3 linked regions of the Homo sapiens genome follow. The protein of the gene in region 1 interacts with the protein of each later gene in a pairwise test. Each region holds a gene or a part of one and is shown on either strand. Other genes may lie near its edges.

Evidence for each region.
Region 2: the proteins of FAM221B (region 1) and TRIM50 interact in binary tests that used the Homo sapiens proteins (3 or more experiments, as listed by UniProt).
Region 3: the proteins of FAM221B (region 1) and KRTAP13-1 interact in a two-hybrid assay, tested with the Homo sapiens proteins (one large-scale study listed by BioGRID).

Annotation. Positions count from the first base shown.
Region 1 is NC_000009.12:35,818,712-35,822,365, reverse strand, and holds part of FAM221B (protein FAM221B), read left to right. Parts: intron 1-737; exon of another isoform or gene 738-924; coding exon of another isoform or gene 925-928; intron 929-2,365; coding exon 2,366-2,476; intron 2,477-2,971; coding exon 2,972-3,169; intron 3,170-3,356; coding exon 3,357-3,476; coding exon of another isoform or gene 3,477-3,520; exon of another isoform or gene 3,521-3,654.
Region 2 is NC_000007.14:73,321,583-73,325,236, reverse strand, and holds part of TRIM50 (E3 ubiquitin-protein ligase TRIM50), read left to right. Parts: intron 1-431; 5' UTR 432-449; coding exon 450-848; intron 849-3,654. UniProt on the Homo sapiens protein: E3 ubiquitin-protein ligase that ubiquitinates Beclin-1/BECN1 in a 'Lys-63'-dependent manner enhancing its binding to ULK1. In turn, promotes starvation-induced autophagy activation.
Region 3 is NC_000021.9:30,394,453-30,397,398, forward strand, and holds KRTAP13-1 (keratin-associated protein 13-1), read left to right. Parts: upstream 1-1,578; 5' UTR 1,579-1,634; coding exon 1,635-2,153; 3' UTR 2,154-2,370; downstream 2,371-2,946. UniProt on the Homo sapiens protein: In the hair cortex, hair keratin intermediate filaments are embedded in an interfilamentous matrix, consisting of hair keratin-associated proteins (KRTAP), which are essential for the formation of a rigid and resistant hair shaft through their extensive disulfide bond cross-linking with abundant cysteine residues of hair keratins.

The sequences.
Region 1 (3,654 bases):
CTGACCATTGGAACAGTGGATGTATAGGATAAGAGAGAGGGAAATGCCTGGAGTGCCACCAGTTTTTGGCATAAGTAAGTGGTAGGATAATGGTGCCATTAACTGAATGCCTAGAAAAGGGTAGATGCTTGGTAGGCATGTGTTGGATGAACAGAGGACAAAGGATGAGAGCCAGGTTTGGAGGGAATAATTGGGCATAAGACATTTGAAGTGCTTATGAAACATGCTGGCCCAAGAGTCTAGTAGACAGCTGGCTATATGGGTCTGAAGCTCAGGAGAGAGGGCTAGGCTGGAGACATTGTTCCTGTAAAGACAGCCATGTGTTTTATGGAGACATACTATGCATAAAGAGATGTCATCATGCAAATGTGATTATGTGATTGTGGAACTGGACTGTGTTAGACAGAATCAAAATGGCATCCCAAATAATGTCTCCTCCCCCGCCAGGCCTTGTCCACCCACAACAGGAAGGGAGTTTGGAATCAGGACAGAGAGTAGAGGGTCCCACTGGAATCCACAGCCACCTTCCAATTGTCCCACTTTAAGAGCACTAACACTTGTAACAGAATCTGAAGTATAGTTGCCAGTCTCCCTGTTCAAACTCCAGTCTTCTTCATCTGAATGCTGGGCACTGATTCCTACACTAGTGCTTGGACTTGACTGCCCCCCGGCCCTCCGAGCAGGCCTTGATCTTTGGGCCTCACCTCCTGCTTTTTTAATGTATCCTGCTACTCCAGACAGAATTCGGAACTCCTCTAGTGGAATCCTGGCTCCCGCCCACCTGCATTGTGACTGCCTATACCTTGCTCTCTCAACAAAGCCTCCCTGGTGTAAGGGGGCACTGGCACTACAGGCAATCAGCATCAAGACAGAAGAAGCAAAGCCAAAAGCCACATCTAGACAGGCTTTAGATCCTGACAGACTATGGGTAAGACAAGAAAACTTAATCTGAGGCACGGAATTGTGAATTGTGGCCCTGACCACAGTCAAAGACCAGATGATGCCACTCTCCTTATTCATGTTATGGAACCTCAGGGTTATGCCTGAATACTGGCTCTCTCTTCCTCTTGAAGGAATGAGCTCAATTGTTTAATCAGGCAATCTACGTTCTCTCAGCAACCATTTTGTGCCAGGCCTTGTGCTAGGATGAGAGATACGGGTGAAAAGACAGCTCCCTTGAAGAACTCATGGACTAATAGGAATACAAGGGAATGATCTATTATAATGCAGTGTACTGCAACAGGAGTAGCACAAGGAGCTATGGATGGCAATAGGAGGGGCCCAGACAGACAGGGGAAGTCAGGGACACCTTTTTGGTGGAGGTGACATTTCAGTTGAGCCTTTAATTGGGACTAAGAATCCTACACCTGGCAGTCCCACTGCATGGGGCCTCATACAGGATTCTTGGCTAGAAGTTGGGGTACTCTCAGTTCTCATGGAGAATGAGAAAATCTGAATTGGAGGTGCCATCTGGTTATCCTCCCTCAGTTGCACAGCACCACCCTCACCTCAAGACTAGTCACGAAGCCAGGGATTCAGACCTCACTGCTGAACACCAGCTCTCGAGGGTTGTGACCTCTTGCTGGTGCCTACTCTCAGGGACACTTCTTAGCCTCACTTTCCTTTCCACGCCTCCTTGCTTAGCCTCAAAATATATAATTTTTGGTCTTCACCACTCATGACTGCTACCTACCCCTTTCTCCTGACCCTTGAAGAACCTTTGGCAGCCCTTCTTAGGTACACAGAGAGCATTGGTACAATAGCACCAGGAACACAGAGGGAGGTATTAAGGTACCAACGTGGAGACGTGAGAGGAAGCCCTCCTCCTACCTTCCAGCACCAGAGCTATCCAACCTCCTTCTCCTCTTCAGGACCTTCAATAAATATGCTCCTTAGGAGCCAATCCCATTGTCTGTACATCTGGCCAATCATCTTCCCTTTCCCTCACCTTAGACACTTCAAGAAAACAAAGCAAAGTTGGGCTTTAGTGGGATGAGGAGAGGAGATGAGAATCCCTGTGGTCACAGAGAACTCAGTGAGATTCATGTTCATCCTCAAACAAAATTTCATCTATAATCTTCCTGCTCAGAAACCACTCTCTTGAGTCATCTCTGGCAGGCTGACAAAGATGGAGTAGATCCTGGGTAGGAAGAGAACTGAAGACACTTCTGGGGTAATGAGAAAACCCTGAGGAAAAAGAAAATCTAAGGGGTAGAGGTGAGGACTTCCAGGTGGAGATAAAGATACCTGGGGGTGGGGAGAGGTAAGTTCCCCCCACCCCCTCACCTCCATCAAGGGATAGGTAAGAACACTTCGGGGGAGCTTAGAATTTTTTTACTTCTCACTTTTAATCCTGCATACCTAGGTCTCTACATTGGCTGGCGCTGCCCCCATTACCTATGGGACTGTTTCCGGATTGGGGATGAGTCCAGATGCTTTTGTGGACACTTGTTGAGAGAGCACCGGATCATCTCAGGTAGGGGAGAACTGACCAGCCCCTCTCGAGTGTGGAGGAATAACTGTACTCTGTCATGTCTTGGGAAGTATGAGAGAGAGCATGTGGCTGGGCACGGTGGCTCACCCCTGTAATCCCAGCACTTTGGGAGGCGGAGGCGGGTGGATCAAAGGTCAGGAGATCGAGACCATCCTGGCTAACACAGTGAAACACCGTCTCTACTAAAAAATAAATAAATAAATACAAAAAATTTAGCCAGGCATGGTGGCACGCACCTGTAGTCCCAGCTACTCAGGAGGCTGAGGCAGGAGAGTCACTTGAAGCCAGGAGGCGGAAGTTGCAGTGAACTGAGATCATGCCACTGCACTCCAGCCTGGGCGACAGAGCAAAACTCCATCTCAAAAAAAAAAAAAGCATGTCTGCGTGCATAGGGGGTGGTGGGGATGGAGGATGGGGTTGGCATGAGAAGGCAAGGTCCTATCAGATTAACCCTACCATCCATCCCCAATCCCACAGACATATCGGTGCCCTGCAAGGTAAGCCAGTGCCGCTGCTTCATGTTCTGCTTTATCCCATCACGCCCAGAGGAGGTGGGTGAGTTCTGGCTCAAGAGACGGGCCACCTTTGACCCCAAGGCCTGGAGGGCCCAATGTCGCTGCAAACACAGCCACGAAGAACATGCAGCCACTGGGCCCCATCCCTGCAGGCATCATGGTAACTTCTAGGGCAAGAGGTGTATTGGGAGCAGGGTAGGTGGGGATAGGATGCAATCTGGGGATAATGATGGAGAGCAGGTATGAGAGCCTTGGGCATGCGGTCACTGAGGAAGAGATGAGAATGTGGTCAGCTCCTGGGGATACCACCATTTCCTAAACTCTTCTTGGCTGCACTTTTGCCCCAGGCTGTTGCTGCGGCTGTTTTGAGTCTAATTTCCTCTGTGCGGCCTGTGACCGGCGCTGGGAGGAACACGAGACTTTCTTTGACACCCAGAAGACCCGGCAACGAGGAGGAAGGCCTCGCGGTGAGGCAGAAACCTGGGACAGGGGGCCATTCCAGGGTCTGTAGTCAGAAGGCCAGGCAGGAAGGCACTCCCATCCTCAACCATCCCTTCCAGGACTAGCGCGCTCCCTCAGCCCACCTCCCCACCACCCACCTACCTGCATCCCACATCTGCACTGGTTTTCACCCCCAGGAGCAGA
Region 2 (3,654 bases), on another chromosome or scaffold:
TTTCAACAGTTTCCCGAAAGTTTGGGAACTGATCTAGAAGGTGGGGAGCTTGCCTAGGTTTTGCTGTTCAGTTCTAGGTCCGGATGCATGCTGGGGCTGGACCTTGCATTATTAGTGTCACTGCAAATGACCCTGCAGATGGCCCCTTTCATGCTTGTCTCCAAATTTGAGTAAAAAATGTAGACACACACACACACACACACACACACACACACACACACATATCTTCAAGGGACCAGTTTTTTTCACTGCAGTCTTTTGTTTTACAGCTGCGGAAACTGGGGCCCAAGGTCATGTGGGTTAGGACTGGGATCCAGGACTCAAAGTGTTTCCTCTAAAATTCTGGTGCTCCTTAGGGTTGAGGGTGGTGGATGAGTGCTGGACAGGGGGAGGGGAGGGGACAGGACTGAGGTCGGATGCCTGTGTTTCAGCCCGGGCAGTGAGTGTGGATGGCTTGGCAGGTGAGCCTGCCAGAGCTGGAGGACCGGCTTCAGTGTCCCATCTGCCTGGAGGTCTTCAAGGAGCCCCTGATGCTGCAGTGTGGCCACTCTTACTGCAAGGGCTGCCTGGTTTCCCTGTCCTGCCACCTGGATGCCGAGCTGCGCTGCCCCGTGTGCCGGCAGGCGGTGGACGGCAGCAGCTCCCTGCCCAACGTCTCCCTGGCCAGGGTGATCGAAGCCCTGAGGCTCCCTGGGGACCCGGAGCCCAAGGTCTGCGTGCACCACCGGAACCCGCTCAGCCTTTTCTGCGAGAAGGACCAGGAGCTCATCTGTGGCCTCTGCGGTCTGCTGGGCTCCCACCAACACCACCCGGTCACGCCCGTCTCCACCGTCTACAGCCGCATGAAGGTGGGGAGTGAGGGTGCAGGGGCGGCTGGAGAGGCCCGCGGGGACCAGATCCTGTGCTCTCTGGTGCCATCACCTGGCACCAAAAGGATCCAGCTATCCTCGATTTCCCTGCAGCTGTGCCCTGGCGCATTCATTCCTTAGCGTTTGAGCTGCAGCTCAACCCAGGTGCCGGGGATTGAAGCCACACGAACAGGATGGGAGCTCCCTGGTGTCACGTGCTCACCCCTTCCTGTTTTTTTATTTGCAGTTCTGGTTTGTTCCTTTTTCTTTTCTTCCTTCTCCTTCCCTCTTCCCTCTTCCCTCTTCCTCTCCCTCTCCCTCTCTCCTTTCTTTTTTTTCTTTCTTTTTGGAGACAGCGTCTCACTCTGTTGCCCAGGCTGGAGTGCAGTGGTGTGATCATGGCTCACTGCAGCCTCCAACTCCTAGGCTGAAGCAATCCTCCCACCTCAGCCTCCCGAGCAGCTGGGGCTACAGGTGCACACCACCATGCCCAGCTCATTTTTCATATTTTGTAGAAATGGGGTCTTGTTATGTTGCCCAGGCTGGTGTTGAACTCCTTGGCCTCCAATGATCCTCCTGCCTGGGCCTCCCAAAGTGCTGGAATTATAGGCATGCACCACTGCCCTAGGCCCCTTGTTTGTGTCTGGACACTCCCCTGTTTGCACTCTATGGTGCATGAGGGTGGGGACTTCATTTTGTCCCCTGGTGTATTTCAGTGCCTGGAGCCATGCCTGGCACATTGTAAATGTCCAAAATGCTGAATCAGTGAATTCCTGCCTTTATAGGCCATCACCAAACCTAGCAGATCATTCTTTAAGACGAGTAATAATAATACCTGGCTGGCTGTTATATATATAAAACACCTGTTATAAAACACGTGACTGGGTGGCTTATGCCTATAATAACAGCACTTTGGGAGGCCGAGGTGGGTGGATCACTTGAGTCCAGGAGTTTGAGACCAGCCTGGGCAACATAGTGAGACCCTGCCTCTACAAAAGTTTCAAAATTAGCCTTGTTGGCCAGGCACAGTGGCCACTCCTGTAATCCCAGCATAAGGCTGGAGGGAACATCGGTGGGGGTGAGATAGGGCCAGCGAGGTAAGCTGCGGCTGGGGCATGGAGAGGCCAGTGTGACCCGGGAAGGGATTTGGAGTTTATTCACAGGATGAGGGAGCAAGGCGGAGGCTGGAGGGTTTTAAGCCAGTGATGAAATGCTCAGATCTCTCTGGCAGAGGGGAGCTTTGAGGGTGAGGCAAAAGGACAGTGAGAGATGAAGGTGCCAGGACCTAAGTCGATGGGAACTGGGACAAAGGCCTGGGGCAGACCAAAGACAAATTTCAAACAGAAAAAAACCCTGACAACTGTGTGTGGCAAGGAGGGTGAGGGACGGGAAGGTTGACTCCAGCTCTGTGATTCCCCCTTGCACAGAGGAAATGATCGCAGGGGAGGATCCGGCGTGGGCAGGTGGAGCCGGAGGTGCCTGGATATGTGCAGTCGGGTCGAGGGGTGTGCAGACCAGGACAGCGGTGGGGCTCAGGGCGAGAGGTGTGGAGGGTCCTTCCTCCTGGTGGTCACTGAAGTCCCCTTTGGTGGAGAAGACCAACCCAGGAGAGTCTACATAGTGATAAGGGAAGACACTGATGATGACCCCAAGGGGTACCAGGCTTAAAATCTGGATTGAGAGAGAGCCCTGAAAAAAGGGATAGAAAGAATCCTCAGAGCGGGAACACCAGCTGAGTGTGGCCTCCCGGAAATCAGAGAGACAGAGACTGAAGGAGATCACGTGTGTGAAATGTCTCTGAGGACTGAAAAGTGTTAGATGTAGCAGTAAGAACTGATTATCTTGGCAAGAGCAGGTTTAGGGGAGTATGGAAGGTGGAAGCTGACTGCAGGTGAGGAAGCCGAGTTTATGTTTTATTAGTTAATGGGAAGGAGGGAGGGAAACAGGCTGGGAGCTTATCTGTCCTTTGTGGTTAGGATCCAGCAGCCCAGCTTGGGTCCCTGTTTTAGATTTGGGCTTAATTTTGTTGTTGTTGTTGTTGAGACAGAGTCTCGCTCTGTCGCCCAGGCTGGAGCGCAGTGGTGCGATCTCGGCTCACTGCAAGCTCCGCCTCCCGGGTTCACGCCATTCTCCTGCCTCAGCCTCCCAAGTAGCTGGGACTACAGGCGCCCACCACCATGCCCGGCTAATTTTTTGTATTTTTAGTAGAGGCGGGGTTTCACCGTGTTAGCCAGGATGGTCTCGATCTCCTGACCTCGTGATCCACCCGCGTCAGCCTCCCAAAGAGTTGGGATTCCAGGTGTGAGCCACTGTACCCGGCCAGATTTGGGGTTTGATGATCCCGAGGCTCTTCTCTGTTGCAACACAGAATACAACTAAATTGCACTCCTTTATTGCCCTCTTTTAGGTGTTCCCGTTGCCTCCTGTTTATTGAGATTTTGAGATGCTCGATTGATGGGTGCATTGATTTGCATAACTTAGTTCCTCTCACGGGGAAGGAATGAGTCCCGTCTGTCTGCCTGGGGAGAGTGACATTGGAATGTCGTTCTTGGGCCGCTGTGAAATATTCTGATGCCTCGTTCTCCAGAGCAAGGACTCTGTCCGTTTATGCCAGCAAGTGCTTGATTCTTTACGCAACTCCCTTCCTGAAAGCCCCTTGCAGCTCTCTGGTGCTTGGGCACGATCCAAGCCAAAAATTCTGTATATTGCATGGGTACAAACCGACGGGGGCTCTGGTCAAATCGTGCAGTAGATGGTGGTCCAGGGGTCCCGGTTGGCACCCCCAAGGCTAGGTCAGGTTTGGGGC
Region 3 (2,946 bases), on another chromosome or scaffold:
CGCCTCGGCCTCCCAAAGTGTTGGGATTACAGGCGTGAGCCACAGCCCCCGGCCCATAGTTTTCCTTTTAAGAAGAAGGATTGGAACGAGGATACTGCTCTGCCACAAACTAGAAGACCCCTACAACCCTGGATCCACAGCTGTTTGCAGCCGATCCTCATGCAAATTGCCAACAGATACAGGTGGGAGGTGAACCAGGGACATCTGGACAAGAGGCGCACAATCTCAGGCTTGAAGCACTGCTGAAATGAAATGACAGAGGGTGTTACAGCTGTGGCGTTGCTCACAACAAATGGCAATGTTAAAAAAAAAAAACTTTTCTGTGTCATAAAAAATAATTCAAGTATTTTTGATGTACTATTTCTAAAAGAAACACCAAGTTTTACTTCCATTTGTTCTACAGAAAATCATGTGGACAAAACCATTGTCATGTGTAGAGATGATCAAAGACCGACTATGCAACCAAAAAATGTAGAAAAAGATTATAGATGAGGATGATGATAAAGGTATATTATTGTCTTGATTTTGTGACATCTTGGGTTTTGTTAACTATGGAAGTTTTTATTCTAAGTTAATATCCATGTTTATATCTATTATTATATTCCTAATATTGTGTTTTTAATGAGGATCTCCAAATTATACTTTTCAACACCACAAAACCTAAATCCACCTCTTTAAAGAGGGCTGGGACAGAGTCACGAAAAACATAGAAGCTGGTGTTACCCCGCAAATGCTCAGAAGGCAGTCAACATTTTGAGGTGGGGGTTTAGAGGTGTTGTAGACAGGTAGGCTCCAGAACACTTACAAATATGAATGCATCATACAAAAGTCATCAAATAAGTTTATTTGAAAGCATTTTGATTTGCTTTTAGGATGGAGTCCTGAGCATCCTTCTGCTATTGTGACTACTCTGACTTGTTTCCTACCTCATCTCAGCAGTGTCTTCTACTTTCCTTTTTTTCACATGGGTCCTTATTGTTGTATTTGTATTTATTTATTTTTTGCTTTTGTTTTGATTTCTTTTTTCTAAATACTAATTTTTTAAAAAAATTTGTTCAAGATGATATCTATGTCTAGTTATCTCTCAATTCCTTTGGCTTACTTTTATATAGGCCCTCGAGACTGGACTTACAAGCACTGATTATAGTAAATAACAGATGGCAAACTATTTTGGAGAGTGTGAACAATAAGATTTCTGCCTCTAGGCCACTGACAAAAAAAGATGAATACATTGCTATCCCCACCCAAGACAGAAAGAATTTCCCAGCCAAAACAGGAGCAGATGTATAAATCATGGGCAGAGAAAATAAGAGGGGTTTTCCTGGACATAATGGAGTAGGGACTAATCACATACTGTCATAGCATTTGTAACATAAATGCATTTCATTGACGCAGAGCTGTAAAAACAAAAGGAGTTCTTCCATAAATATAAGATGAAGGGTGTTAGTTAACTGCAATGACAAAGAAGATTACTAAGTTGCTTATATGAAATGTGGGAGCTTAAATGTGTGAAGGATGACCCTGTAAGGTGCCACACCCACGGCTGAACGTATATAAATGGTCCTGTCCAGATGTGGCATGCAAACTCAGAATCTTCTCAGTGTAACTCAGCTGAACTCACATCTCCCATCAACATGTCCTACAACTGCTGCTCTGGAAACTTCTCCTCCCGCTCCTGTGGTGGCTACCTGCACTACCCAGCCTCCTCCTGTGGCTTTTCCTACCCCAGCAACCAGGTCTACAGCACTGACCTCTGCTCTCCCAGCACGTGCCAGCTGGGTTCCTCTCTCTATAGGGGCTGTCAGCAGACCTGCTGGGAGCCCACCAGCTGCCAGACATCCTATGTGGAGTCCAGCCCCTGCCAGACCTCCTGCTACCGTCCCAGAACCTCCTTGCTCTGCAGTCCCTGCCAGACAACTTACTCTGGGTCTCTAGGCTTTGGATCCAGCAGCTGCCGCTCCCTGGGCTATGGATCGAGGAGCTGCTACTCAGTGGGCTGTGGGTCCAGTGGCTTCAGATCCCTGGGTTATGGAGGCTGTGGCTTCCCTTCCCTGGGCTATGGCGTTGGATTCTGCCGCCCAACCTACTTGGCTTCTAGGAGCTGCCAGTCTTCTTGCTACAGACCAACTTGTGGATCAGGCTTCTACTATTGATCATCTTGTTAAATTGCTGATTTTGTTGGCTAATGCCTTCAATGCCTCTACTCATAACCTTTATTGTCTTCATCATGTACAGAAAGAATTAGCCTCTTATTCTATAATTATCAAGTTCTCAGTTTGTCTTTGTCCCCAAATACTGGCTGGCAGGCTTCATCTGAAAAACTGTAATTGGAGAACTAGCTCAAAATAAATCTTGAAATACACATTAAAAGTAGAATTTATATTATTCGATTTTCTTCCACAATTGTATAAAAAGTCAAATCATTTTAATCCAATAAATCCATTGGTCTCATATTCAGCTATGTTTGTGGTGGTTTTATATTGCTAGGGTTTTGGTTGTGATGTATTAGGCAATTATTATGAAACAATTGGTGTATATATATAGGAATAGGTTTCAAAATCATATGAAGTTTGCGATTCAGACAAACTTTTGGGGGCCTCAGAGATTTTTGTTATTCAAACTACAGGTAGTGGAAGTCTACTAAATTTACAGACTTTTATTCATTAAAATATCAGAATCAGGAATTAGCTTGATCCCCTTATAAAATGTGGATTCTTGTGTCTATGCCAACAAGCATAAGGTAGCAAACTAGTTGATAGTTATATCAGGAATCTGCAGAGAAAAAAATACTATTTAGAACAATATGGTTATAGATATACATAAAAGAAAAATGGAATTGAAGAGAAACAAAAGTGATTTGAAGTAACTTTTGAAGTCACCCAATATTTGTTGGTAATCATGATCAAATGCCTGCATCTCATTGATGAGAATTCAATATGATTCAGT